Linked DNA regions of Homo sapiens. The protein of the gene in region 1 purifies or fractionates together with the protein of each later gene. This does not show direct contact. Each region holds a gene or a part of one and is shown in the gene's direction. Other genes may lie near its edges. The genes, in order: NSA2, CCDC86, GNL2, MAGEA9B, NOP2, MRTO4 and NLE1.

What was found.
Region 2: the proteins of NSA2 (region 1) and CCDC86 purify together in Homo sapiens (affinity purification with mass spectrometry; 3 studies listed by BioGRID and IntAct, with this or other methods). This does not show direct contact.
Region 3: the proteins of NSA2 (region 1) and GNL2 purify together in Homo sapiens (affinity purification with mass spectrometry; 4 studies listed by BioGRID and IntAct, with this or other methods). This does not show direct contact.
Region 4: the proteins of NSA2 (region 1) and MAGEA9B purify together in Homo sapiens (affinity purification with mass spectrometry, with the first as the bait; 3 studies listed by BioGRID). This does not show direct contact.
Region 5: the proteins of NSA2 (region 1) and NOP2 purify together in Homo sapiens (affinity purification with mass spectrometry; 2 studies listed by BioGRID and IntAct, with this or other methods). This does not show direct contact.
Region 6: the proteins of NSA2 (region 1) and MRTO4 purify together in Homo sapiens (affinity purification with mass spectrometry; 3 studies listed by BioGRID and IntAct, with this or other methods). This does not show direct contact.
Region 7: the proteins of NSA2 (region 1) and NLE1 purify together in Homo sapiens (affinity purification with mass spectrometry; 4 studies listed by BioGRID and IntAct, with this or other methods). This does not show direct contact.

The regions. Positions count from the first base shown.
Region 1 is NC_000005.10:74,770,249-74,773,748, forward strand, and holds part of NSA2 (ribosome biogenesis protein NSA2 homolog), read left to right. Parts: intron 1-382; coding exon 383-562; intron 563-2,064; coding exon of another isoform or gene 2,065-2,124; exon of another isoform or gene 2,125-2,245; intron 2,246-3,500. UniProt on the Homo sapiens protein: Involved in the biogenesis of the 60S ribosomal subunit. May play a part in the quality control of pre-60S particles.
Region 2 is NC_000011.10:60,845,113-60,848,346, forward strand, and holds part of CCDC86 (coiled-coil domain-containing protein 86), read left to right. Parts: intron 1-2,811; coding exon 2,812-2,941; intron 2,942-3,234.
Region 3 is NC_000001.11:37,578,938-37,582,437, reverse strand, and holds part of GNL2 (nucleolar GTP-binding protein 2), read left to right. Parts: intron 1-101; coding exon 102-215; intron 216-892; coding exon of another isoform or gene 893-1,096; intron 1,097-3,500. UniProt on the Homo sapiens protein: GTPase that associates with pre-60S ribosomal subunits in the nucleolus and is required for their nuclear export and maturation.
Region 4 is NC_000023.11:149,584,660-149,588,933, reverse strand, and holds the start of MAGEA9B (melanoma-associated antigen 9), read left to right. Parts: upstream 1-1,474; 5' UTR 1,475-1,540; exon of another isoform or gene 1,541-1,572; intron 1,573-2,028; exon of another isoform or gene 2,029-2,131; intron 2,132-4,274. UniProt on the Homo sapiens protein: Not known, though may play a role in embryonal development and tumor transformation or aspects of tumor progression.
Region 5 is NC_000012.12:6,565,492-6,569,559, reverse strand, and holds the start of NOP2 (28S rRNA (cytosine(4447)-C(5))-methyltransferase), read left to right. Parts: upstream 1-1,268; 5' UTR 1,269-1,353; exon of another isoform or gene 1,354-1,421; intron 1,422-1,637; 5' UTR 1,638-1,641; coding exon 1,642-1,744; intron 1,745-2,737; coding exon 2,738-2,783; intron 2,784-2,942; coding exon 2,943-3,031; intron 3,032-3,223; coding exon 3,224-3,459; intron 3,460-4,068. UniProt on the Homo sapiens protein: S-adenosyl-L-methionine-dependent methyltransferase that specifically methylates the C(5) position of cytosine 4447 in 28S rRNA. Required for efficient rRNA processing and 60S ribosomal subunit biogenesis.
Region 6 is NC_000001.11:19,250,633-19,254,604, forward strand, and holds the start of MRTO4 (mRNA turnover protein 4 homolog), read left to right. Parts: upstream 1-1,172; 5' UTR 1,173-1,203; coding exon 1,204-1,231; exon of another isoform or gene 1,232-1,616; intron 1,617-3,972. Other genes in the region: EMC1 (ER membrane protein complex subunit 1 isoform 5 precursor), read right to left, coding at 783-877. UniProt on the Homo sapiens protein: Component of the ribosome assembly machinery. Nuclear paralog of the ribosomal protein P0, it binds pre-60S subunits at an early stage of assembly in the nucleolus, and is replaced by P0 in cytoplasmic pre-60S subunits and mature 80S ribosomes.
Region 7 is NC_000017.11:35,128,230-35,132,303, reverse strand, and holds the end of NLE1 (notchless protein homolog 1), read left to right. Parts: 3' UTR 1-1,869; coding exon of another isoform or gene 1,870-2,022; 3' UTR 2,023-2,645; coding exon of another isoform or gene 2,646-2,882; 3' UTR 2,883-3,574; downstream 3,575-4,074. Other genes in the region: FNDC8 (fibronectin type III domain-containing protein 8), read right to left, coding at 1,870-2,022, 2,646-2,882. UniProt on the Homo sapiens protein: Plays a role in regulating Notch activity. Plays a role in regulating the expression of CDKN1A and several members of the Wnt pathway, probably via its effects on Notch activity. Required during embryogenesis for inner mass cell survival.

The DNA.
Region 1 (3,500 bases):
TGTACCCAGGAGGCGGAGGCTGCACAGTGAGCCAAGATTGTACCACTGCACTCCAGCCTGAGCAACAGAGCGAGACTCCATCTAAAAAAAAAAAAAAAAAAAACCACCACATTACAGGTGGTATTTTCTCACCCATAACACAGCATTAAGATTTTTAGCTTAAGCCAACCATTTATTTAACATACCCATGATATATAAACTTGTTCTGTTTAATTTGCAGCTTATGAGACAATACAGACCTCTAGAAGACGGTTGAGCCAAAAATGTGTTGATGGTCAAGCAAAAAAAATAGATCTATTACTTTGTACAACTAAAACATATTTGACTTATTCTCATTGTCCTTTAATAACAATATAAACTTTTAACTGTGGCATATTTTTAGGGAAAATGGGAAGTCCCTCTGCCTAAAGTACGTGCCCAGGGAGAAACAGAAGTATTAAAAGTTATTCGAACAGGAAAGAGAAAGAAGAAGGCATGGAAGAGAATGGTTACTAAAGTGTGCTTTGTTGGAGATGGCTTTACAAGAAAACCACCTAAATATGAAAGATTCATCAGGCCAATGGTAAGTCCTTGGAAGAGTGTAATGACCGAAATGTTAGTTGACTTTATTAAATCGGATAAAGAACATTATCATTTCCTGAAATTCTTTAAATTGATGTGGAACAGGTTGAAAGATATTTTTATGCAATTTTTGTTATTTTATTGACAGAAGTTATTTAGTACTTTTTCCACTAGTCAAAAATCTTTAGCCCAGTGCGGTGGCTCACACCTGTAATCCCAGCACTTTGGGAGGTTGAGGTGGGTGGATCACCTGAAGTTAGGAGTTCAAGACCAGCCTGGCCAATGTAGTGAAACCCTATCTGTACTAAAAAATACAAAAAATAAGCTGGGCGTGGTGGCGGGCGCCTGTAATCCCAGCTACTAGGGAGGCTGAGGCAGGAGAATCGCTTGAACCTGGGAGGCGGAGGTTGCAGTGAGCTGAGATCACGCCATTGCACTCCAGCCTGGGCAAGAAGAGCAAAAATCCGTCTCAAAAAAAAAAAAAATCTTTTCAGCTTCGTGAGAGATTTGAAAAAGTAGTATCATAAGACATTGTCAGTGAATTCTGACTTTTAAACATGACATATTAGAATCTTCATTTTCCACAGTCATATTTTCCTCATTAAACTAGTGATCTACAATATGCCTGATATTGTCTAGGTCTCAAAACACTTCTTGTCTTTGACAGCAGTTCGAAAACTTGAGTAGGACTGTTTTATAAGAGTCAATTCCAGTTTGATAAGGAAAGTATCTAAATGCTTTTGAAAATCATTGAAAAGCCGGGCGCGGTGGCTCACGCCTGTAATCCCAGCACTTTGGGAGGCCGATGCAGGCAGATCACGAGGTCAGGTGATCAAGACCATCCTGGCTAACACTGTGAAACCCCATCTCTACTAAAAAAAAAAAATACAAGAAATTAGCCGGGCATGGTGGCGGGCGCCTGTAGTCCCAGCTGCCTGGGAGGCTGAGGCAGGAGAATGGCGTGAATCTGGGAGGCAGAGCTTGCAGTGAGTGGAGATCATGCCACTGCACTCCAGCCTGGGGGACAGAGCAAGATTCTGTCTCAAAAAAAAAAAAAAAAGAAAAAAAGAAAAAGAAAATCTTTGAAAAAAGGAAGATAATTTAATATAGCTTAATTTCTGTTGAAGGCAGCAATAGTAATGTGACCCCAAACTTCCCCACCCCTGGGGAGAAACATAGTTGAAGATATATTTTTGCAAAATCCCTTCAAAGAGACTGAACTATTCTCCCAGTTAGATACACAGCCTCAAAAAAACAAAGTATCAGAGAGAGGAAAGTTGCAACATGCCATAATCCTAGTGTTCAACCTGAGTAATTTTTTTTTTTTTTTTTTGGGACGGAGTCTCCCTCTGTATCCCAGGCGGGAGTGCAGTGGCACGATCTCGGCTCACTGCAAGCTCCGCCTCCCGGGTTCTCGCCATTCTCCTGCCTCAGCCTCCCGAGTAGCTGGGACTATAGGTGCCCGCTACCACGCCCGGCTAATTTTTTTGTATTTTTTTGTAGAGACGGGGTTTCACCGTGTTAGCCAGGATGGTCTCGATCTCCGTGATCCGCCCGCCTTAGCCTCCCAAAGTGTTGGAATTACAGGCATGAGCCACCGTGCCCGGCCAACGTGAGTAATTTTTAATAGATTAAAATATTGGCAAATAGCCTGTTTCTGTAAATAAAATTTTAATGGAACACAGTCATGCCTGTTCATTTACATATTGCATAACCCCTACCCCTAGAATTGAGCAGTTGCAACAGAGGCCATATGGCCTGACAAAGCCTAAAGTGTTTACCTATTGGGTTCTTTACACAAAATGTTTGCCCACCCCGGATTATATCATGGACTCGACTTGTTTTGGTTTCATATTCATAGTCTGAATATATTTTGGTAGCCTTAACAGTTCTACAGGGAGAGAATATACAAGTCAGGCTATTCTAGGTTTTCTGTAGTTTCACAGATTTGTCATTATAATCAGATGGCATCCTGAATGGTGTCAGTTTCTTACAAGCTTGATTAATGAGTCTGTTACTAAGAAACTGATTTAGTGATTTTTTCCCCCCATCCCCATGCACACAAAAATGAAGACTGCAAAATGTTGTGACGTTTAAAGTACTACACCCTAAAAGACCTTATTAGGTGACTGGGTGACTCCATAACCAGTTTCTGTAACAAAGACTCCTCTGGGTCTCCTCCAGTCTCATATTGCCATCAACCTAAAGAAAGCTGACAGTCCACTCCTTTTTTCATCATGGAAGGTAGCCGAGTTATATAAAGACTTGGAATCAGGATATTAAGGTTTGAGTCTGTTTACCACTCACCATTTAATCTGGAAACAAGTCATTTAACCTGCTGATCCTTGTTACATCATTTGAAAACAGAGGAGAGGGGATGTGTTTGTTGTGAGGTTATTGTGTTTAAGTGAGCCAGTTGTGAGCTAGCATAGTGGCCTGGTATATATAAAGTCCTTAGTAAGTCTAAGTGTAGATGACTAGACAGTAAAAATCTGGGTATGTTGCTAGGTAGCTATTACAGGGTGAAAAAAAAAAAAACTTTTCAGAGGCTAGCTGTGGTGGCCTGTAATCCCAGCACTTTGGGAGGCTGAGGTGGGTGGATACGTTGAGAGCCCAGGAGTCCAAGACCAGCAGGCAACATGGCGAAACCCCATCTCTACCAAAAAAAAAAAAAAAAAAAATAAGCTAGGCATGGTGGTGCGTGCCTGTAGTCCCAGCTACTCAGGAGCCTGAGGTGGGAGGATGTCTTGAGCCCAAGAAGTCCAAGCTGCAGTGAGCCAAGATCACGCCACTGCACTCTGGCGTGGGCAACTGGGCAAGACCCTGTCTCAAAAGAAAAAGAAATTCTTAAGTATTTGTGTGGGTGTTTTCCCCACATATTTATACTGTAACCATCAGCTTTTTACTCTGTAAAACATATTTTGTTAGCTTCTTTAAGA
Region 2 (3,234 bases), on another chromosome or scaffold:
GGAAACAGTATCCAGGCAACAGGAAAGGGATGTTCAGAGGTATTGAGGCGGGAGCAAGCTCCCGTTTGAGAGGCTTTCCAGAGGTCTCGCTGCTGGAATGAGGGGGAGAAGGGGAACAGTAGGAGATGAGGTCAGAGAGACAGCAGGACCTGGTGACCCTTACAGGGACTCCCGGCTTTCCTGAGTGAGCTTGGGAGCCATGGAAGGGTGTCAAGCAAAGGAATGAAATGACCTGACTTGTGAGATCAGCCTGGCTACTGAACACAGACATAGGCGGGCAGGGGTGAAGGCAGGAAAACCCACAAGGAGGCTGTCTCAAGAGAACTAAAACAGCTTCCGAAGCTGCAGGCAAGTCTGTGGCGAGGGGCCCAGCAGGGCCACTGAATGGATGTTTGGGATCTTTGAGGGAGCAGCTTCGGTGGGTAGTAAGTGAGCCTGGAGATGGGTGGGAAGCAGCTCCTGCTGCAGGGAGGAAGACAGCCGCAGCTGGGAAAGTGTATGTGGTGAGGGAGACCTGGCTGCAGCCCTGTCTTCGTGCTCATGCCAAACGCCACTTTCTCCATAGTGCCCTTGGGCATGCTGTCTGCCTTCTCTGAGGAGTAGCATTTATGGAGCACCTATTACGTGTGTGTGTCGATTAAATCTCCCACCACCCTTTGGGTTAGGAATGATTCTCATCTCCACTGGACAGGATGCTGAGACTTAGAGAGGCTACCTTGCTCCAGGTCACCCAGGTTGGACTTGGAACCCAGGCCTGAGTTTCCTCAATACCCAGGTAGAACCAATGGTCTGGAACTGCCCTGCCTCAGTACCTTAGCCGCCAGCCACATGTGGCTATGTACATTTAAATTAATTAAAATTAAATAAAATTTAAGATTCAGTTTCTCTATCAACACCAACCACATTTCTAGCGCTCAGCAGCCACCCATGACTAGTGGCTACCTTATTGGACAGTGTCAATGTGGAATGTTTCCACCATCACAGAACGTTCTGTTTGACAGCCCTGCTCTACACAGATGCAGCACTGTGTCTTGTGGTTCTGTGTGTCTCTAGGCTCCCAACACCTTGTCCCTTCAGGGTTCTCGTACCCCAGCTTGGGAAGCCCAGCTTTACAGTTATGGGGGAAGTCCATGTGGCACCCCATTCTTAGTGCTTAGGAGGCCAGGCCTTCAGTGGCAAGGCCTTGGGAAGGGGAGAAGGAAATCAGGGAGCTGGGGCCAGAAGTCGGCAGGGCCAAGGGACACCAAAATGGGCCTTGAATCTTTAAAAGAGAAAGACCTAATTTCAGCATGTGGAGGCCACCGAGAGACTTCTTTGCATTTTGTTTTTACTTTTTTTGAATGGAAATTTTCAAGCATACAAAGAAAGAGCAAAGCTCTCAAGTCCCCATTATCAGCATCAACACAGCTCAGCATTTTACTAGTGTAGCTTCATCTTTGATACTTGGCTTTTTTTTCTTTTTTTCTTTTTTTTTGTTTTGAGACGGAGTTTCATTCTTGTTGCCCAGGCCAGAGTGCAATGGAGCAATCTCGGCTCACCGCAACCTCCGCCTCCTGGGTTCAAGCGATTCTCCTGCCTCAGCCTCCCAAGTAGCTGGGATTACAGGTGTGTGCCACCACACCCAGCTAATTTTGTATTTTTAGTAGAGACAGGGTTTCTCCATGTTGGTCAAGCTGGTCTCGAACTCCCGACCTTAGGTGATCGGCCCACCTCAGCCTCCCAAAGTGCTGGGATTACAGGCGTGAGCCACTGCGCCCGGCTGATCTTTGGCATTTTTTTTTCCCTGAAATATTTTAAAGTACATCCTAGACATATCATCCCATTCATAAATCCTTGTAGTATGCATTTTTACAGAGATGAGCTCAGTTCTCCTGTAACTCTAAAATCATCGTTGCTCTTTTCAGATTTCCCTGAGAGCCCTGATGCCCACTTCATCTCCAACTGGGGGAAGAGATTCTTTTTCTTTTTTCTTTTTTCTTTTTTTTTTTTGAGACAGAGTCTTGCTCTGTCACCCAGGCTGGAGTGCAGTGGCGCGATCTCGGCTCACTGCAACCTCCACCTCCCAGGTTCAAGCAATTGTTGTACCTCAGCCTCCCAAGTAGCTGGGACTATAGGCATACACCATCACACCCAGCTAATTTTTGTATTTTTAGTAGAAACTTTAGTAGGTTTTAGTAGGCTTAGTAGGTTTTGCCATGTTTGCCCGGCTGGTCTCCAACTCCTGGACTCACGTGGTCTGCCCACCTTGGCCTCCCAAAGTGCTGGGATTACAAGCATGACCACTGCATCCGGTCTTGGCGGGGAAGATCCTGAATCATTACCCAGAACTTTAACCACTCACACTGTTCTGAAATGGAATGGGCCACCTCCCTAGGGGGTGAGCGCCCCGCCTCCAGAGGCATTCACACCCGGGCCAAATGCACTTGGCGGAAGCAACAGAACTTTACAGCAGGGGCCGCGTAGCCTGGACTCTGCAGTCGCTGACAGGATTCAAGTCCTGACTGCCACAAGGTATCTTTAGGCAGCTATTTAACCTCTCCGCGCCTTGGCCTGCTCCTCTGTAAGTGGAGAGGATAGGAGTACCCACCTCAGAGGCATGTAGCCAAGGCTTGAGAAATGGCAGCCAGCACGATCAGGGTTCCCTCCCGCCCCAAGTTTCTGCAGCCCTGGAAGGCCGCCTGTCAGGCCAGCAAGGAGGTGGTTCTGCCTGGGCTCTGGGGAAGAAGGTCCAGAGCCTCCGGCCGAGAGGAGACAGGGCATGGGTGGCGCTTGCCCCACAGACCCTGTATGCACCCACTCTCCCCCTTTCAGATTCTCCCAGATGCTTCAGGACAAGCCCCTGCGCACATCGTGGCAGCGGAAGATGAAGGAACGACAGGAGAGGAAGCTGGCCAAGGACTTTGCCCGTCACCTGGAGGAGGAGAAGGAGAGGCGCCGCCAGGTGAGGGGCCAGCCAGGCTGAGGCTGGGGCTCAGAGGACTAAGCTAGTGTCTACTGGTACAGACCTGAGGCGAGGGCCTCCACGGGTGCCTGGGGGAGGCCGACTTGGTTAAAAAACGTTCTTGAATCTGAAGGCCGGAGGGAGGAAGGGCACCTGGCCAGAAGCAGAAGTGCAATCTGGGACTACAGGGCAGGGAGGCCCAGGGGACCATACAGTTTAGCCTGGGCTGCTGAAAGAGCCTCAGGGACAGGGACGGAGGGGGAGGACCAGAAGCGGGCCTTGGGGAGAAGCCC
Region 3 (3,500 bases), on another chromosome or scaffold:
CAGTATATTTGAAACAGTTCTGTAATTCAAGCTCTGATTCTTCCACATAATGTAAATAAATGTACTGCAGTTTACCAAAATGTTTTCATCTCTCCTTCTAGAAACGGTGGGTTGCTGTCCTCTCCCAGGATTATCCAACACTTGCTTTCCATGCAAGCCTTACTAACCCGTTTGGCAAGGGAGCATTCATTCAGCTTCTGCGGCAGTTTGGAAAGGTATTGAGCCCTGATCTGTTTCTCCTGGAGTTGTGTAGCTGTGAGTTGGTATAAGAATCTGTCTTGCCATGGCATAGCAGAAAGTTGCCAACTTCTTAGCCGGACGTGGTTGCGCAGGTCTGTAGTCCTAGCTACTCAGGACGCTGAGGCAGGAGGATTGCTGGAGCCCAGGAGATCAAGGCTACAGTGAGCTATGATGGCACCACTGCACTCCAGCCTGGGTAACAGAGCAAAACCCTGCCTCTAAAAAAAAAAGATGTGGCCGGGCGCGGTGGCTCACACCTGTAATCCCAGCACTTTGGGAGGCCGAGGCAGGCAGATCACAAGGTCAGGAGTTTGAGACCAGCCTGGCCAATATGGTGAAACCCCGTCTCTACTAAAAATACAAAAATTGGCCAGGCATGGTGGCACACGCCTGTAGTCCCAGCTACTGGGGAGACTGAGGCAGGAGAATCGCTTGAACCTGGGAGGCGGAGTTTGCCGTGAGCCGAGATTGCGCCACTGCACCCCAGCCTGGGCGACAGAGCGAGACTTCTCAAAAAAAGAAGAAGAAGATGTAAAAACTTCCAGAGATGTAAAAACTCACAGAGCATCAGGATTATAAGAGATTCTGAAGTGTTTTCTTGCTCAGCCTTTGCCCCCATCCGTGACCAGTGTTGCTTCCATTTCTGCCACAGCCCTGGCACCTGACGTTCCACGCTCTGCTGGGCTTTCCAGGCCTGCTGTGCATCCTCTGCCCATGGAGCCCATGCAGCTTCTATGTCCTCTGGTTGGAGAGGGCCCTGCCAAAATTCAAGCTTCAGATCCCTGGTCAGACGTCAGCTCCTGAGGGAAGCCGTGGAACCAGACTACCCTATCAAATTCTTAAAGCTTCATGTTCTGTACCTGTCATTTTGAATTTGTCTATTTAGTTAATTCTACCTGGCTTCTAACAAAAGACACATGTCTGCTGTCCCACCCTTCCCCACTTTACAGAAGCAAATGCTTCCAATAGCCATTAGTTCTGTTATTTTCCTCCATATTTTTAGTACATGCTTATGATTTTCTTGATCTGTGCCCACCCCTCACCCCCAGTTTAAGATGCTTATTAATTTCTTACTATGGAAAATGAGGATTTGCTATCTTATAGCCATCCTCTCTCTGTATGTACTTCCCCCTGTATTGTTAGATGCCAATGTTGGGTTACAGTATTATTCATTCAGTGTTGGTTGGTTGTTGTTGTTGTTTTAACTTGGAAAGGAGAGCTTTATTTCTCATAAAGGGTTGCAGCCTGCAGGGTGGCCACTCTAACAGGCTGGGAAGAGTAGTCTTGGCCATTCAGTCTTTACATTGTCATGACTGTAAAATATTAGTCACAGCTGATCCACATGGTGTGCTATGAGTATAATTCCTTTCTGATCGAAGCTTTTATTTTCGCTAGTGTTACTTTGCTGTGTTCTATTTGTATCTGTCACTATCATACTACCAAATTCTCTGATACAGTGGGAACTGTCAGAGCTTCCAGGCAGCACAGGTAGTTCCCTTCGGTGGCCAGCACTCCGTCCTCCGCAGGGCTGGCCGCTCTCCAGGCTGCTGCAGCGTCGTCTTTCTGGGATTTCCTTTCACTGTCATCCAGAGAATTCCCATGGCTGTTTTCCTGTATGGGACCTCTTATTTATAGGACCTCTTTTCTTCTTTTCTGGTTTACTCCTTTCTTTCCATGGGACATATTTTCCAAAAGTTTCCTGAGAAGGAATACTTGGAAAGAACATTTTTTTGAGATACGCCTTGCGTTCTGAAAATATCTTTATTAAGATCTTTATTCTACCCTTTATGCTGTTTTTCCTCAGAATACTGAGGTTACCACTGCACTGTCTTCTGAATTCTGAGGAATCTGAGGCCATTCTGACCCCTCATACTTTGTGTGGCTGTGATTTCTTGTTTTGAGACAGGGTCTTGCTTTGTCACCCAGGCTGGAGTGTGGTGGCACAACCACAGCTCACTGTAACCTCAAACTCCTAGGCCCAAGCGATCCTCCTGCCTCGTTTTGGCCTCCTGAAGTGCTGGGATTACAGGTGTGTGCCACCACGCCCAGCCAATCTTTTCTTATTCTAAAATTTAAAATTTCTCTTGTTCTAAAATTTCACAGTGGTGTGTCTTGAAGTGGGCCTTTTATTGCTCAGTGAGCTTGGCGTTTGATGAGACTTTAGTCTGATATTGTCTTACATTATTTCTTTGAAATTTTCTTTCCTCCCTCAGTTGTCTGTATTCTTGTTCAGAAATTTGCTTTTACCTCCTGGTTTAATTCTTGATTTATATTTGCTTTCTTTTTTTTTTTTTTTTTTTTTGAGGCAGAGTCTCACTCTTGTCACCAGGCTGGAGTGCAGTGGTGTGATCTCGGCTCACTGCAGCCTCCGCCTCCCGGGTTTAAGCGATTCTCCTGCCTCAGCCTCCCGAGTAGCTGGGACTGCAGGCACACGCCACAACGCGCAGCTAATTTTTGTATTTTTAGTAGAGACGGGTTTTCACCATGTTAGCCAGGATGGTCTTGATCTCTTGACCTCGTGATCCGCCCGCCTCAGCCTCCCAAAGTGTTGGGATTACAGGCATGAGCCACTGCACCTGGCCTATATATTTTTTCTTTTGGTACATATATGACATTTTCCTCTATTTTCTGGGTACTTTTTTTTTTTTGTGAGACAGAGTTTTGCTCTTGTTGCCCAGGCTAGAGTGCAATGGCGCGATCTCGGCTCACTGCAACCTCCTCCTCCCAGGTTCAAGCAATTCTCCTGCCTCAGCCTCCCGAGTAGCTGGGATTACAGGCATGTGCCACCACACTTGGCTAATTTTGTATCTTTAGTAGAGACGGGGCTTCTCCGTGTTGGTCAGGCTGGTCTCAAACTTCCGACCTCAGGTGATCCGCCCCCCTCGGCCTCCCAGAGTGCTGGGATTACAGACGTGAGCCACTGCTCCCGGCCACTTTCCTTGTTTTGATCATCCAGCTGCCCAGTCACAAAATTTATTTTGCCAATTGCTTTTAATTTTTAATTTCTGAGAGCTCTTGTTGAATTCTGATTTGCTCTGCCTCCTTTTACATCTTATTTCACAGTCACAGTATCATTAATGACGTTTTGAAATTTTCCTGTCTGCATTGATTCTGTTACCTCCAAATTTTTGTGGGTTTTTTTGTGTTTTCTGCTACAGTCACGCTTAAAAATTTTTTCTTTTACTTTAAAAATTTTTTTGAGACAGGGTCTTGTTCTGTCTTAACCCAGGCTGAAGTGCAGTGGTGCGATCATGGCTCAC
Region 4 (4,274 bases), on another chromosome or scaffold:
AAATACAGAGTGAGTGCCTTAACTGTCATTGCCAAAGTGACAACCAAGCTCAGGTTGCTGTGCTCTGCTCCCCAAATCAACCCCGGAAAAAATATAGGAGGGAAAAGATTAAAAAAAAAAACCCATCAAAACAGAGAAAGCCCTGGGGATGACTGAAGACTGTGCTAAACTAGTACTTGTGTTTTGGGTCCAGGGAGCAGCAGGGAAATCGAGGAGGTCTGTACCCTGCATAGATGGCAGATTACAGGATGGATAGGAGAAAGTGTTTAACATTCCACCCCACATCATCGCGCAATCTGAGGCAGCACCACAAAATCTGATGCCAGTAGCCCTGGAGTAATATCAGGACACCAGGAAATTTGAGTTGATTGAGACACTATGGCTCCAGAGTTCTGCTAACAACCACCTGAAACAAACTTAGTAGGAGAAGACCAGCCTTCCAAAAAATTATTATTTTAATGGAATATAAAGAATGAACTAGGAATAGAATAGTAAGTATGTGTGAAGGCCACATACTATGAGTAGATATTAATAAAATATGTGTGCATATATATAGTATAAAGTCTAGAAATACAAACGAATATGTAGCTAAAGATATATACATGTAAGTAAATATAAGATATAAAGATATATATGCGTGTATGTATACATATAAGCATAGATGTATATAATGTCTAAAACAGGTATGTATATAAACGTAGATATAAACAAAATGTACAATACCATATATAATGTACACATACAGTGTAAAATTTATTACCATGTGAATGAGAATTAAAATATGAAAATCGCTAATCTGGACTCTGCTGTGTTCGATACCTTCAAAACACATGGCTTCTCCAAATCTCTTGCTGCTGCTCAGCCTCTTCCGTGTAAAAATAAATCTTTTAGGACAAAAGGTTTGCAAAGTCTAGCTCTGGCTGGGGAGGAGCCCCCATGGGATGGTGTGCATCTTCTCTCACAGGTCCTACAATCACAGGTGCTGCAGCCCCCCAGGGAGCATCTAGCCTGGGACCCGCAGCCATTCTCTGCAACGCGTGCAGCTGGGCAAATGCTCAAAGGTGACATAAACAGATCATCTCCCACACATCACTTCATCAAAGAGCCAGGAGCCAGGAGGAGAACCCTCCTGAGAGGGGACTGAAGGTCCAACCTCCCCACATAGAGGGGCCACAGAATCCAGCTCAGCCCTTCCTGTCAGCCCTGGAAGACCCTGGCAATGTTGTCACCCCGACCACACCCCTCCCCTCACTGCCACCTCATGTGACTGGGAGTCAGAGACTTGGTCCGAGAGGAGCAGACCCAATGGGCAGAGAATGGGGATCGAGACCCAGGCATCAAGGTCAGGACCCCCTGAGGGATGACTGAGGGCCCCTATCCCCATCCCCACCCCTACTCCGCCAGAACCCGGTTCAGCCCCTACTGGCAACCCAGGGAAGCTCCAGGCTTGGGGGCCGGATGTGACGTCACTGACGTGCGCACTGGGGGTCAGAGAGAAGGGAGAGGCCTCCTTCTGAGGGGCGGCTTGATACCGGTGGAGGTAAGCTGGCCGAGGCTCTGTGAGGAGTCAAGGTGAGGTGCTGAGGGAAGACTGAGGATGTCCCCACCCCAGATAGAGGACCCGAAAGAACCAAGTGCCGTCTCTGCTCCCAGCCCTGGACCACCCGGGGGCCGATCTGGGGCTGACTTGTGAGGCTGGGCCGACCCCCTCCCTCCGCCGCTCAAGCTGCTGGGCACTCTGGAGTGAGAGCTTGGTGTGACCAGGGCAGGGCTGGTTAGGAGAGGGCAGGGCCCAGGCTCTGCCGGGCATCAAGGCCAGGACCCTGAGGGAGGCTGGGCCCCCCCAACCCAACCATGACCTACAGCCCCAGGTTCCCCAGCCCCATCCTCAGCTCCACTCTACACCCCACCCCACCCCACCCCACCCCACCCCAAACTCCACCCCACCCCCCCAACTCTCCCGCGGCAGAATCTGGTTCCGCCCCTGTTGTCAACCCAGGGAAGCCCCAGGTGCCCGGATGTACGGCCAGTGACTCCCACACTGGGGGTCAGAGAGTAGCGGGGGCCTCGCTGTGAGGGGCGGGTCGATATCGGTGGAGGGAAGCGGGCCCAGGCTCTGTGAGGAGGCAAGGTGAGACCCTGAGGGAGGACTCAAGACCCCCCGCCCCAGATAGAGGACCCCAAATAATACAGCGCCGCCCCTGTGCCAGCCCTGGACCACCCCGCGGGGTCGGGCGTATCAGGCTGGGCCCAGGCTCTGACTGGCATCAAGGTCAGAACCCTGAGGGAGGGCTGAACGCCTCCACACCCCTAACCCAGCCACCACCACCATGACCTACAGCCTCAGGTTCCCCACCTCCATCCTCACCCCCCCCCCACTCCACCCCACCCCCAAGTCTCCCGTGGCAGAATCCGGTTCGGCTCCTGCTGTCAACCCAGGGAAGCTCCGGGTGCCCGGATGTAAGGCCTCTGACTTGCGCACTGGGGGTCAGAGAGTAGCAAGGGCTTGGTTCTGAGTGGTGGCTGAAGATCGGCAGAGGGAAGCGGGCCCAGGCTCTGTGAGGAGGCAAGATGAGACGCTGAGGGAGGACTGAGGACGCCCCCACCCCAGATAGAGGGCCCCAAATAATCCAGCAGCACCCCTGCTGCCAGCCCTGAACCACCCCGGGGGCGGACTTCTCAGGCTGTGGGCCACCCTTCGCCACCCCACCACTTAAGCCCCAGGGGACTCTGGGTCAGAGCTTGGTGTGACCAGGGCAGGACTGGTTAAGAGAGGGCAGGGGCCAGGCTCTGCCAGGCATCAGGGCCAGGACCCTGAGGGAGGGCTGAGGCCCCATAGAGGGAGTCACTGCCCCTGCAGTGGACCCTGGGAAGTTCCGGGCATGGCGGTCAGGCAAGCGGATCGTGATATCTGCATCCTGGGCTGACCGAGGGAAGGGGCTTGGTATCGTTAGCGTGGCCGCGGGAGAACAGAGGGAGGGCCCAGGTCCTGCTGGGAGACAAGGGAGGCCTGAGGGGACCCAGTACCCCAGGACAAGGGGCCCACCCCGCCCCTATCTGAGACCGAGGCCCCTCCTCATTCAGCCTCGGGAATCCGACAGATAGAGACTCAGGTCCACAGAGGGGTGGGGCCCAGCCCTCTAGGAGACCAGGGAAGGAACAAGACGGAGGACAGAGGGGACCCCGGAGTCCAGCTCAGTGGGGATCTTGGCCTGGGCGATCCCGGGCACGGTGGCCGCATGTGGTGCATTGTGGCTGGTGGGATCGGGTGTCAATGGGAACAGGGCTGTGGTATGAGGAGTGGGGCCTCAGGTGAGCAGAAGGAGGAGTCCCAGAGGCCTGAGGAAGGATTCACCAGACCTCTCATCCCAGACCTAGGAAACCTGCCCCTGCCGTCAGTCTTGGAAGGCCCCAGGCAGGACGGTGAGGAAGGGAAGTGCCCCCTCCACCCCCAACACACACTTTCTCAAAGAGGGTCTAAGGGAGAAATTGGCCTTGGTCTGCAAGACTCACCTCTGGTTCAGCAAAATGGAAGGGGCCAGATTCTGTCAGAAGCAAATATGAATACCTAGAGGACACCCAGACCGACGAGGCCCCCTGGAACCTGCTCCTTTGGTCAGCCTTGGGTATCTCATGCATGAGTGACCATGAGGTGGCCCCTCACTTCTGCCTCCCGGGTCTCCGGGAGGTGGGGGCCTTGGTCCGAGGGGTTTCCTCAGCTCAGCAGAGGGAGCCACACCTGGTCAGCACAGGGTGGAATCCAGGGTCTTCCAGGAGTGACGGGGAGGAAGTTTGGTGAGGACTGAAGGTAAGAAGGTACCTCCACGCTCTCAAAAAAGAAAGGACCTCACAGACACTGGTGTCACCTGTTCTCAGCCCCAGGTGGCCCCAGGCAGGAATGGCATGAGGCATGCTCTCATTTCTCCCACGTGACTGGGGGTGAGAGGTCTCAGGGAGGTGAGTACCTTGATCCCAGGGGGCACTGAGAGATCCAACAGAGGGCTCCACACCTGGTCAGTAGAAGGAGGACTCCCAGGATCAGCAGGACCCAAGGTGTGCCCCCTTCATGAGGAATGGAGGTACCCCCAACGCAGAAAGAAGCCACCCCACAGAGTCTAGGTGAACTCTGTTCTTAGATCTGGGGGCGGGGGGGGGCCTGATCAAGGATGGTGCTAAGTGGCAAGCTCATTTGTACCATGGCAGGAAGTTGAGGAACCCTCAGGGGGATGAGGCGTTGGTGTAAAGGGAGATGTCTGCTCATCTCAAGGGTTTGA
Region 5 (4,068 bases), on another chromosome or scaffold:
CGTTGTTTCCCAACTAATTGTAGACCCACCTGAAAGCGAGTTCCGGCGAAGAGGCCCCCTGCGAATGAGGTGCAGTGCAGCACCTTAATTGAGGGGCTGAGCAGGGGTCAGCATCAAGGAAGGTGCTGGGAGGGCGGGGCACGGTGGCTCACAGCCTGTAATCTCAGCACAAAGGTGGGGGCAGGAGGATCGCTTAAGCCCAGGAGTTCTAGACCAGCCCTGGCAATATAGTGAGACGCCACCCCCTACAACCCGTCTCTATAAAAAGATTTTTAAAAAAGGGGCAAAGAGGAGGAGGTAAGTGGCATGGAATTCCACGGTTTTTTTTGTTTGTTTGTTTTGAGATGGAGTCTCGCTTTGTTGCCAGGCTGGAGTACAGTGGCGCGATCTCAGCTCACTGCAACCTCCCCCTCCCGGGTTCAAGCGATTCTCCTGCCTCAGCCTCCCGAGTAGCTGGGACTACACGCGTGCGCCAGCCACCATGCCCAACTAATTTTTGTATTTTTAATAGAGACAAGGTTGGCCAAGATGGTCTCGGATTTCTTGACCTCGTGATCCGCCCGCCTCGACCTCCCAAAGTGCTGGGATTACAGGCGTGAGCCACCGAGCCCGGCTGGTTTTTTTGTTTTTTTTTTTTGAGGTGGAGTTTCGCTCTTGGTGAGGCTTAAGTGGCACGATCTCGGCTTACTGCAACCTCCGCCTCCCGGGCTCAAGCAATTCTGCCTCAGCCTCTCGAGTAGCTGGGATTATAGGCGCCCGCCACCACGCCCGGCTAATTTTGTATTTTTAGTAGAAGCAGGGTTTCACCATATTGGCCAGGCTGGTCTCGAACTCCTGACCTCAAGTGATCCACCCACCTCAGCCTCCCAAAGTGCTGGGATTACAGGCGTGAGCCACTGCGCCCAGCCTGGAATTCCGTGATCTTGACGCTGGACTAGGGCAGTGGATGCGAGGGAGAGGGCTCCAATGTCGGGCCCTGGTTCGAGGAGAAGGTGCGGCTTTCACCCAACAGAAACCGGCCGTGAGGCTAAAAGCCAACTCCATGAGGGAAGGTCGGTCAAGCTCAATGGTTTCGTCACATTGCTCCCTCCACCCGCCGCGGGTGTAAGCTGCGCGTCTCCTTCGAATTGCCCCCTACTCGCCGCCGCCGGCTCCGCTGGCGTTCCCAGGGCGAGCGTAAGTTCCGGGTGCGGCGGCCGACTAGGCGCAACAGGAAGAGGCGGGGCCGCGAGGCTAGCGCTACCCGTGCGCCTGCGTGGAACGATTCTGTGGCGAGTGCCGGCCGAAAGCTAGGTCCGGATTGCACGTGGAGGGCCGCCCGAAGGGCACTCTCGGACATTAACCCGCATTCTGGTGGGTCTAGAGGAAATTGGGGGACGAAGAGTGGCAGCACTGACCTGGTCTGGGACGTGGGGAGAAGGGTGCGCTACCTGGGTTTCAGGTGGGAGGGCGTTCGGTCGGGCCTCCAGGGGGATAGCGGGGGTGCTTGAGTCGCGGGTGCTGAGTCGGGAGTGCTGAGTGAGTTGCGGGTGCTGAGTTGAGGCTGTGCCCTTTCCCACTATAATACGCCAAGCGTGCGTTCTGCCGTTCCCTCCGACACGCGCGACGCCACCTTCTCCCATTTCTGCCTGCCACAGTACCATGGGGCGCAAGTTGGACCCTACGAAGGAGAAGCGGGGGCCAGGCCGAAAGGCCCGGAAGCAGAAGGGTGCCGAGACAGAACTCGTCAGATTCTTGCCTGCAGGTAAGGATTAGTTGTGGCCTCCTGATCCCTCAGCTTTTGCAGTATTCTGTATTATAACCTCTTCTCTTTTTTAGTTTCTGTTCATTTTATATTTAAGTGGAATCTTCTCTGTATGAGTTACTAGGAGGTATGAATGAAACAGCCGTTTAGATTGTAGGGAACTGTTTAGGTCGTAGAGATGTGAAGACACGGACACAACTATTATTCATGCAAGGGAAAAGTGTGATTTAAAACAATTGTGAGTTCAGAGGAAGGGGGAGCCCATGCAGAACTGTAAAAGTTTTTGTTAAGCTGGGTTTTGAAAAATGGGTAACATTGTAGCAAGAGGAAGTAGTGAAGGGGAGGGGTCAGTCACTGATTTGCCTTTTGGAAGGGGTGGAAATGGAAAAGCACGGATCTGGCTGCTTCATGCCGAGTAGTAGTATACTGTGTGGAAGACTGGTGGGAGGTAACACTGGACCGGGAGTTTGTGTTGGGCATTGGATAAAGGATGCAGTTTATTGAGATAGTAGGAAGTCCTGGGCACTGTATTAAACTTGTTGGTCATGTTATATCGCTTAATCATCTTAGAGTCCTGTGAGAGAGGCACTATTAAGGAAACACTTTGGGAGGCCGAGGCAGGTGGATCACCTGAGGTCCAGTGTTCGAGACCAGCCTGGCCAACATGGTGAAACCCTGTCTTTACTAAAAATACAACAATTAGCTGGGTGTGGTGATGGGAGGCTGAGGCAATAGAATCGCTTGAATCTGGGAGAAGGAGGTTGCAGTGAGTTGAGATCACGCCATTGCACTCCAGCCTGGAAGACAAGAGTGAAACTCCATTTCAAAAAAAAAAAAGAAACTTGTATACAGTTATTAAATAATAACAGGGCTGAGATTTAAATGGACTCCTTTTAATTAGTGTACTAATTCTCTTACCATGTTTATTTCCGTTCCCATTTATTTTTAATGTCCCCTGTAACTTGTTCTGCCTCGTTTTTCTTTTTTAAACAGTAAGTGACGAAAATTCCAAGAGGCTGTCTAGTCGTGCTCGAAAGAGGTAAGTGTGGGTGTCAAAACTTAAGTAGGTTAAATTGGTACTGCTCATCTTTGACCACAGAGTTAATTCTAGACTCTCACATTTCCCTATGGTGGAAATGGCAGAGCCTGGAAGTATCTTCCCATTTCTTCACTCCTTGAATCTCTTGTGTCTTTTCAGGGCAGCCAAGAGGAGATTGGGCTCTGTTGAAGCCCCTAAGACAAATAAGTCTCCTGAGGCCAAACCATTGCCTGGAAAGCTACCAAAAGGTCCGTGAAACTAAGAGCTGGATGCTACATGAGGAGTCCCTTTGGGTCCTGGGTAGGGAAGAACTCGCTAAACATTTCCGGAGTGAAAGGAACAGCCAAAGGACATTCTGAGGGGTAGAAAGTACAGGCTCCCAGGGTGTGGGGCCAGGGAATGTGTGGCTGCCATTAGTCCAGGACTCTTCAAACCCTTAGGGATCTCTGCAGGAGCTGTCCAGACAGCTGGTAAGAAGGGACCCCAGTCCCTATTTAATGCTCCTCGAGGCAAGAAGCGCCCAGCACCTGGCAGTGATGAGGAAGAGGAGGAGGAAGACTCTGAAGAAGATGGTATGGTGAACCACGGGGACCTCTGGGGCTCCGAGGACGATGCTGATACGGTAGATGACTATGGAGCTGACTCCAACTCTGAGGATGAGGAGGAAGGTGAAGCGGTGAGATTCATCTTTTTGGGCATTCATAGAAGGATCCTTGCTATTTAGTTTCTTTCCCAGATTCTTGAGACTGTTTCTTAGTGGCAAGGATAAGCCTGACTAGAGGAAAGGGGTTTTTGTGCTCCATCACTGTTTCCCTACTGCCTTATATCCTCCCAGTGCACTACAAGTTTGAAAGAGCTGTAGGATAGAGCATTTAAAAAAATCTAGAAGGCTGTCTTGGTGTAGGTATGGGAAGGTGGACAATGGTGTGCTCCACTGATGGGCACAGAAATGCACTTTTTATAAAGCAGTTATCTCAGAACTTTGAAAAATTTGTTCCTTTTGGCTGGGTATGGTGCCTCACATCTGTAATCCCAGCACTTTGGGAGGCTGAGGCAGGAGGATTGCTTGAGCCCAGGAATTGGAGACCAGCTTGGGCAACATAGGGAGATCCCGTATCTACAAAAAATTAAAAAATTGGCCTGGCACAGTGGCTCATGCCTATAATCCTAGCACTTTGGGAGGCCAAGGTGGGCGGATCACCTGAGCTCCGGAGTTCGAGACCAGCCTGGACAATATGGCGAAACCCCATCCCTACTAAAAATATGAAAATTAGCTGGTGTGGTG
Region 6 (3,972 bases), on another chromosome or scaffold:
GATAACGCTTAATGACTGCATTCAATGAGCCAGGCATTGTGCTAAGTAATTTAATGGGATTGTCTCATTCATTCTCACAAGTACTGTAAGAGATAACGGACTGTTAGTAAACCCATTCTACAGACAAAGAAACCAAGGCACAGAGTGGTTAAGTCACTTTCCCCAAGATCACACAAGTCTTAACTAGTAAAATTCAAACAAAAGCAAGCTACTCCAGGGCCTTAAGGAAGACGTGGGTGGGTGAATGAATGAATGAGTGAATGGCATATTCTAGCTGCTTAGTGTTTTGGGCAATCCTGCTGTGAGCCCAGGGCCAGACTAGGTTGATGAGAGGGGAAAAGGACTCAGTTTAGGACTTTTAAGACGAAAGCTCCTGTTCACTTGCCTACAAGACACCAATTCGAGTAGGAATTAAAGTTCACTGACAGCTTGGCGACCTCTGACACCTGGTAGACCAGAAACCTCACAGTCAAAAAAATCGAACCTGACGAGGGAGGACGGGATCAGTGATCTCTGACCGGCACCCCAAGCATTCCTGGATGGCAGGGCCGGCTTACACGCAAGGATCAGCTTAGAATGACCCCTAACACTTGGTTTAAGGCTCTGCTTCCAACGACTTTAAATCCTTAATAATTTTTTAACAAGGGGCCCCACGTTTTCATTTTGTACTGGGTCCTGCAAATTATGCGGCCAATCCTGTTAAGTGACAACCTTTAGCAGGTAGGAGACAGGTACTGGGGAAACAGCCACTTATCTCTCGAATATGTTCCACACGTACGCACCAATCAAACTTGCCCACTTGGTCTTCGTAGACCGCGGCCGCAGGAATCAGCAGCGTAGCCCAAAGCCAGAAACGAGAAGCCCACTCAGCCGCCATGATGCGAGCGCATGCACCACCCACCGCCGTCCCGGCATGCACCGCGCCGCGGGCTCCGCCTCCGCGGGACCACAGAGCTGGGATAGCGCGCGAGGCCCTCGGTCGGACGGGACGCTCGGGATTCAGGGACTGCCTCGGCACACGGGAAGTTGCCCTACAGGCGCGGGAGAAAGCGCAGGCGGCGGCTTGGCAGGGAGAGGCAGGCTGCAGTGCACATTGGGTCAGGCACACGCGAGGGGCAGCCCCCGAGGGCCGTCCCAGAGTCCCCCGCGCCGCCGGGGTCCTAACGGGGTGCACCGTCTTCCGCCGCACGTGGATTCAGCGCGATGCCCAAATCCAAGCGCGACAAGAAAGGTGGGCGAAGGGGGAGTCGGGACCCTGGGGGGAGCTCCGTGGGCTGGCTACCCAGCCTGCGGTGAGGGCTTCGGGGCGGCGGGGGCGCAGATTGGAACGCCAGGACATCCTCGAGGTGTTCCGCTGCCTCGCTGCGAGCTGGAATGGGGGCTTCGGGGCTGTAAAACCGCCAGAGGTGGCTGACGCCCGGTCGGGTCTGGGGAGCGGAGACTCGTTTTGCCTAGTTTCAGGTGCTCTTGCAAGGCCAACTGGGTCGGGAGGCAGCTCCTGAACACCGCCCCCGGCTATGCCTGCTGCCGTTTCGGCCCACTTTTCCCAACTTCGGCCCTTTCTCATCTTCCTGCGCTCCCGCCACCCTGGCTGCCTTTCCCTTCTTTCAGCACAGGTTTGTTCCCGTGTCTGGCGTTGTGTGTCTGCGGTTGTTTCTGCCTGGCATGCTTACATCTTCGTATGGTTTGCGCCTTCTTAGTTGTCAGTTAATAGGATCCCTCTGAGACAGGGTCTCGCTCTGTTGCCCAGGCTGGAGTGCAGTGGCGCGATCGTAACACTGCAGGCCGGATGCGGTGGCTCACGCCTGTAATCCCAGCACTCTGGGAGGCCGAGGCGGGCGAATCATCTGAGGTCGGGAGTTCCCGACCAGCCTGGCCAATATGGTGAAACCCCTTTTCTACTAAAAATACTAAAAATTAGATGGGCATGGTGGCAGGTGCCTGTAATCCCAGCTACTTGGGAGACTGAGGCGGGAGAATCGCTTGAATCCGGGAGGCGGAGGTTGCAATGAGCCGAGATCGCTCCACTGTACTGCAGCCTGGGCACGACAGAGCGAGACTCCGTCTCAAAAATAAATAAATAAAATAAGTCACTGCAGCCTTGACCTCCTTGGCTTAAGCGATCCTCCCACCTCAACCTCCCGAGTAGCTGAGACTACAGGCGCACGCCACCACACCCAGCTAGGTTTTTTTTGTTTATTTTTTATAGAGAAGACTCAGTGTGTTGCCAAGCTGGTCTCGAACACCTGGGCTCCAACCACCCTCCCTGAGTGCTGGGATTACAGGCGTGAGCCACTACACCCGACTTGCGCACCTCTTAAGAGACCGTTTTTGACCACCTTTGCTGTGGTGGCCTCTCTCTTAACCCGGCTCCCTGGAATATTCAAAAATATTTAGGGGTCTGGCACTTTCTAGGCGTTAGAGGATACAGCAGTCACAAGGAAAGCCTATTTCTTATCGAGCCTAACGTTTTAGGAGAAACATATTCCGCAAAATGCTAAAAATCAGATTGAAAATGGGGTGAAGAGATGTTGATATTTTGTATAGTGTGGTCGGGAAAGGTCTCACTGATGAAGTGACAAATGAGCAGAAAATAAAGAAAGGAAGCGAGCAACCTGTGGAATTGAGCAGCTGTGGAATTATCTGGGAGAATGCTGTTCCAAGTAGAGGGAACCTGAAGTGAAAAGGCTCTGAAATGGGAGCAGATATGACGTGTTTGGGACAAGAGGCCAGTGAGGCTGGAGCAGAAGGAGCCAAATAGAGTTTGGGGAGGGAGTTAGGCAGAGAGGGCAGGACTTCCTCGGCCTTGGCAAGGCATTGGCTTTCCTGCCCAGGTGAAGTGAGTAGCAGAGGACCCATGTGATTTACCTTTACTTATGAAGGGTCACTCTGGTTGCCTTGGTGAGAATAGTTGGGGAAGACAGGGCAGAGGGCAGGAATGGAAGCAGTGAGACCAGCATTAATCCAAGACAGGGTGATGCTGGCTTGAGCCAAAGGTATAACAGTGGAAATGATGGGAAGTGGCCCGCTATATTTCGTTTGCCCTCCTCTGCTCCACTTACCATTGACTGATGTCATTGTCTTTGTCTGTGTGGTACCTAGTTAAGAGGGGCTGAGTGCGGGCAGGTTAAAGAAGAGAGGCCTGGGTCCCTTTGTGAAGGCGCCCGGGGCTTTGCAGTTGGAGTTCTGTTAAGTGTTTCTGGAACGATTTGATTCTGTGGAGGGGCCTGGGTCAGGTCTGGCAAATGCCAAACTCTGTGGGTAGAGGGCAAATTGGGCCCCAGCCATTTTTACAGTAGAGGTACATGTTCCTCCCCAGAGAGGTGTTGCTGCGTCTTTGGGTCCAAATTGCAATACTGGGGTGCAGATACATACCAGGAGATTCAGTCCCCAGCCTCATGGTTGCACAGCATAGGCCAGCTAGAGTGGCCTCTGCATCATGGTCAAGAGCAGCAAGGGGCCAGGCATGGTGGCTCACACCTATGATTCCAACACTTTGGGAGACTGAGGTAGGCAGATCTCTTGAGCCCAGGAGTTCGAGACCAACCTGGGCAACATGGCAAAAGCCATCTCTGCAAAAAATACAAAACTCACCTGGGCATGGTGGTGCATTTCTGTGGTCCCAGCCAAAATTAGCAGGCCATGGTGGTGTGTGCCTGTAGTCCTGTGTGGGAGGATTGCCTGAGCCTAGGAGCTCAAAGTTGCAGTGAGCCCAGATCGTGCCATTGCAGTCCAGCCTGGGTGACAGAGTGAGACCCCATGTCAAAAAAAAAACAAAAAACAGGGGCCTGCCTCAGCCAGCAGGTGAGGTCTGCCACTGAGAGCACTTCTAGCAGCAGGAACAGCCTCCACCCCCACACTGCAATCAAGTTTTTTGGGTCAGCCTTAGGAGCTAAGAAAGGCCTAGTTTGTCTAAATAGCAGGAGTTATATCCAGGGATCTTCAGGCCCAGGAATGCTAATGAGTAGGCAT
Region 7 (4,074 bases), on another chromosome or scaffold:
TGCTGTCCTCGATAGACCGGAATGGGGTTTTCCCACAGATCCCCGCCTGTGGCACACCCCAGAGCCAGAAATCGAAGGTCACAGGAAGTTGTCACTGAACTTGGCCCGTGTCTGCTACTCTGTACCTTGCTGGTACAGACAGGGGTGGTGGGCAGCCAGGCTCTATGAGTGGGCCCCTAGTGTCAGCTCTGTACAGGGTCAGATCCCAGGTTCTATGACCAAATAAGTAACTTAAGTTTTGTGTGTTGGGTTCTAATTCCTTGTCCTAGAATCCCCATGACTCAATCAAGGACTGTGCTAAATGAGATTGTCCAGCCCCCGCCCTTGCACTGGACTACGCCAAAACCACACTGACCAGGCACTTGCCTTCCCTCTCTTCCCCCGTGTTGGTAAGAGAGAGGCCAGTTGTGATAGTGGCCAAGGAGAATCTAGGGCTGTATTGTTGTCCACTGCAGTAGGCACCGGCCACATGTGACTGCTGGCATGAAATAGAAGTGCAGTTCCTCCATCGCACTGGGTAAGGCCTCCAGTATTGGACAGCACACAGAAAGGTTTTCATCATCAAGAGAGTTCTGCTGGTCAGCCCTGCTCCAGGGGATGCCTCTGCCTTCGCATAGCACACTGCTTGAGGCCCTGCCAGGCACCAAGCACTGCCCTGGGCCCATGGGATAGAGCGGGGAAGGTGATGGCTCTTCCAGAGGATTCCCTCAGATGGGGAGGCAGCAGTATGAGCTCTGAGCAGAAGTGGGTATTGTTGATACAGAGGAAGTTCTTTGCCACGAGAACTTTCAAGCAGTGAAAGGAATTCCCATCAGGACTCAGACCCCAGGCCGAGATCTTGCCCTGAATGTACCCTGCCTCTGCTTTCTCCTGCATCCCATGCTAAGCAGGGTCATGGTCTGAACTACTCAGATTGGATTTCCAAACCATCCTTGTATAAACTGCTCAGAACTAGCATCTTGCTCCTTCTTACCCTCCTCCACCCTTGTCTGTGCTTTTGGGTTTTGCGCGTCACCTAGCTGTGGTGCTTGGCCTCCACCTTGCACATATCTGCAGTGAGGCTACATAAGAAGCGAACAAAACTATCAGCCACTGAGCTCCTTGGTGCCAGCTGTTTGTCTGCTGTGCTCTCAGACTGCACCAGGCCTGGAAGGTTCTCAAGCTCCAAAACTTTTGATGAGGAAACAACATAAGAAATGATTAGCCCATGCCCTCACATCTAGTAAGAGAAAGCTGGGATTAAACCAGGCCCTGCCCCAAAGCTTATTGTGCACTTTGTACCACATCCCTCCGTCCAGAGCTCAAGCTAGTTTGACAGTTCATGGGCCACCACGTCTGTCCATGACAGCTATTTCTGTATTTTTCTGGTGTAAGAGCCTTTTAGTCTTAGAGCACCAGTCTCCCTGTTCCCCTACCCCGCCCCACTGGGGAAGGGGTGATGGCAGCATCCTATTGCCTAGCTGCCTGTTTTCTATCTCCCCACCCATGTAGACTCTGTCCTGGTGGAAGCTAGGAGGTGGGTGCCAGCCAGCCCATCTGAGGCTGTCTGCAGCATAAAGCAGACTTTAGGGTGCTGGATGACCTGCAGTTCTTTAATGAGGGACCTAGACCCAGCCCAGATTTGGAGGAGGAGGGAGTCTAGCAGCTGTGGGCAGTGGCTGAGCCTGGCATGGCCTGGCCTGAGATGCCTCCAGGTGAATGGGGCCCCTATGTAGCCTTGGCCCCAGCCCAGGGGTGGGGTGCCCATACCACTCTGCCAGACCCCGGGCCCGCAGGGTGCTGGTGGTATGGTAGGTCTCATGGCTCTGGTTTCTGAGGGCCTGGGGTTGAAGCTGAAAGTAGGTGAGGGGTGTCCTGGGGCCCTCCCCCTTAACAGGGAAATAGGTATTCCAGATCCTCCAGCCTCCGCATCTCCTCCGGCCCGATGGACACGATCTTTTGCCGGGGTTCCTTGCGCCGCACGGTGATCTGGATGGGGTAGTTCTCAGGAAAGCTGCTGAAGTCAGTGGCCAGGGTTGCAAACTGAAGTGAAACAAGAAAACCCTTCAGAGTTCCTTCCCAGATCTGAACCTGGCTCTCTCTCTGTCTCTATCACCCCTTTTTTTTCTGTCTGCTGACTCAGACCTTAAACAGCCTTATCCAACCTAGCCATTGACGCAGGAAACAGGTGCAAAGATGCATGACTCAAGCCTGTACCTCCTCATTATGGGATATTTCCAACCAAAGGGCTGTCTGTACTCAGGCCTCTATACCCCCATACCCCTACCCCATACCCAGGCTGTTCCCTTCTTCGTCCCCCTTTAGCCTCTTGTCTTCCCTATTTCTTTCAATGCCCTTGACTTCCCAGCCTACTCACAATCATGGGCACTGAATTGCAGAGTCTAAAAACCAATGGCTTTGGAAGGGGAACATTATAGTGATGTTGAAAAATACATTCGTTTGCATTCCTAGTGGGCCCCAGAGTGGCTTAATCCTTAAACCTCCCAGAAGCATGCATTCTGGAATTGATGCTTCTTGACCCAGGCAGAAGGAAAGCTAGCCAGATGAGTCATGTGGGCATAGGGGTGTTCCCAACCTCCAAAGCCCTGGTTCCCTGGCTTTGGACTTCTCTCCACCCCCAAGGCCCCTCTTTTCCCAGGGCTCACTTTGTAGGGCTTGCACCACTTCCCCACCCCAGCTGTGTTGGCTGCACGGACACTGAGGCAGTAACACGTGTTAGGCTTTAGCTCCATCAGCTTGACAGTAGTGCCCAAAATCTTGTTGAAGATCCATGGACGATTCTTTGCCTCGGGCAACTCATTCTCCTGTGTCTTGGCCACCTCCTGTAACAGGAGCTGGTAGAAACTGACCGGCTGCTTGCCCAAGGCGTAGGTCCAGGAAATCTAGGGGAAGAGAGAGCCCCGAGGCTTCCTCAGATATGTCCTGTCCTTCCTGTCCCTTCACCCTCCCAACTGGGGTCAGGACGTCCCATGCCCATCCCCTGCTCCTGCTGGGGCCCAGGCAGGTCAGATGGAAGGTGCAAGGTACTGCAGCACTGAGTGTGGAACCCCTGCCCCGAAGCATGTACTACTCTCCTGGGCAGCCCCACCCACTTTAGGGTACACCCTCATTCCATATTTCTTATACGCCAGGGGTCCTCAACCCTTGGGCCACCAACTGATAGCAGTCCATGGCCTGTTAGGAACTGGATAGCACAGCAGGAGGAGATTGGTGGGCGAGCAAGCGAAGCTTCATCTGTATTTACAGCTGCTCCCCACGGCTCAGGGTACCACCTGAGCTCTGCCTCCTGTCAGATCAGCAGAGGCATTAGATTCCCATAGGCACGTGAACCCTATTGTGAATTGTATGGGAGGGATCTAAGTTGAATGCTCCTTATGAGAATCTAATGCCTGATGATCTGTCATTGTCTCCCATCACCCCCAAATGGGACCCTCTCGTTGCAGGAAAACAAGCTCAGGGCTCCCACAGTTTCTACATTATGGTGAGTTGTATAATTATTTCATTATATATTACAATGTAATAATAATAGAAATAAAGTACACAATAAATGTAATATGCTTGACTCATCCTGAAACCATCCCCCCAACCGGATCCATGGAAAAATTATCTTCCATGAAACCAGTCCCTGGTGCCAAAAAGGTTGGTTCTAGACTCTGTCTAGACTCTGTTAGCTGAGAGGGACCTTAGAGATCATCTTATCGACTAGGTCCAGAGAGGGCAAGTGACTGGTCCATCATCATACGGCAATTAAGTGACAGCCAGTGTTCAAACCCATAGCTCCAGAGCCCATACACTTTGTACTACAATGGTTGCCAAGCCTGGCTAAGCATCTCAGGGAGATTTTGTAACTGCAGATTTCTGGGCCTGCTGCCTCCTGTCTGGTTTCTCCTCCATCTAGGCCAGTGTTTGTCAAACTTGGTGTGCATTAGAATACCCTGGAGGACTTATTAAAAGATAGATTACTGGGCTCCGCCCCAACAGTTTCTGACTCAGGAGGCCCAAATGTGGTGGAGGGAGATGAGAATTTAAATTTGTAACAATTTGCTGAGTGATGCTGACATTGTCCATCTGGAG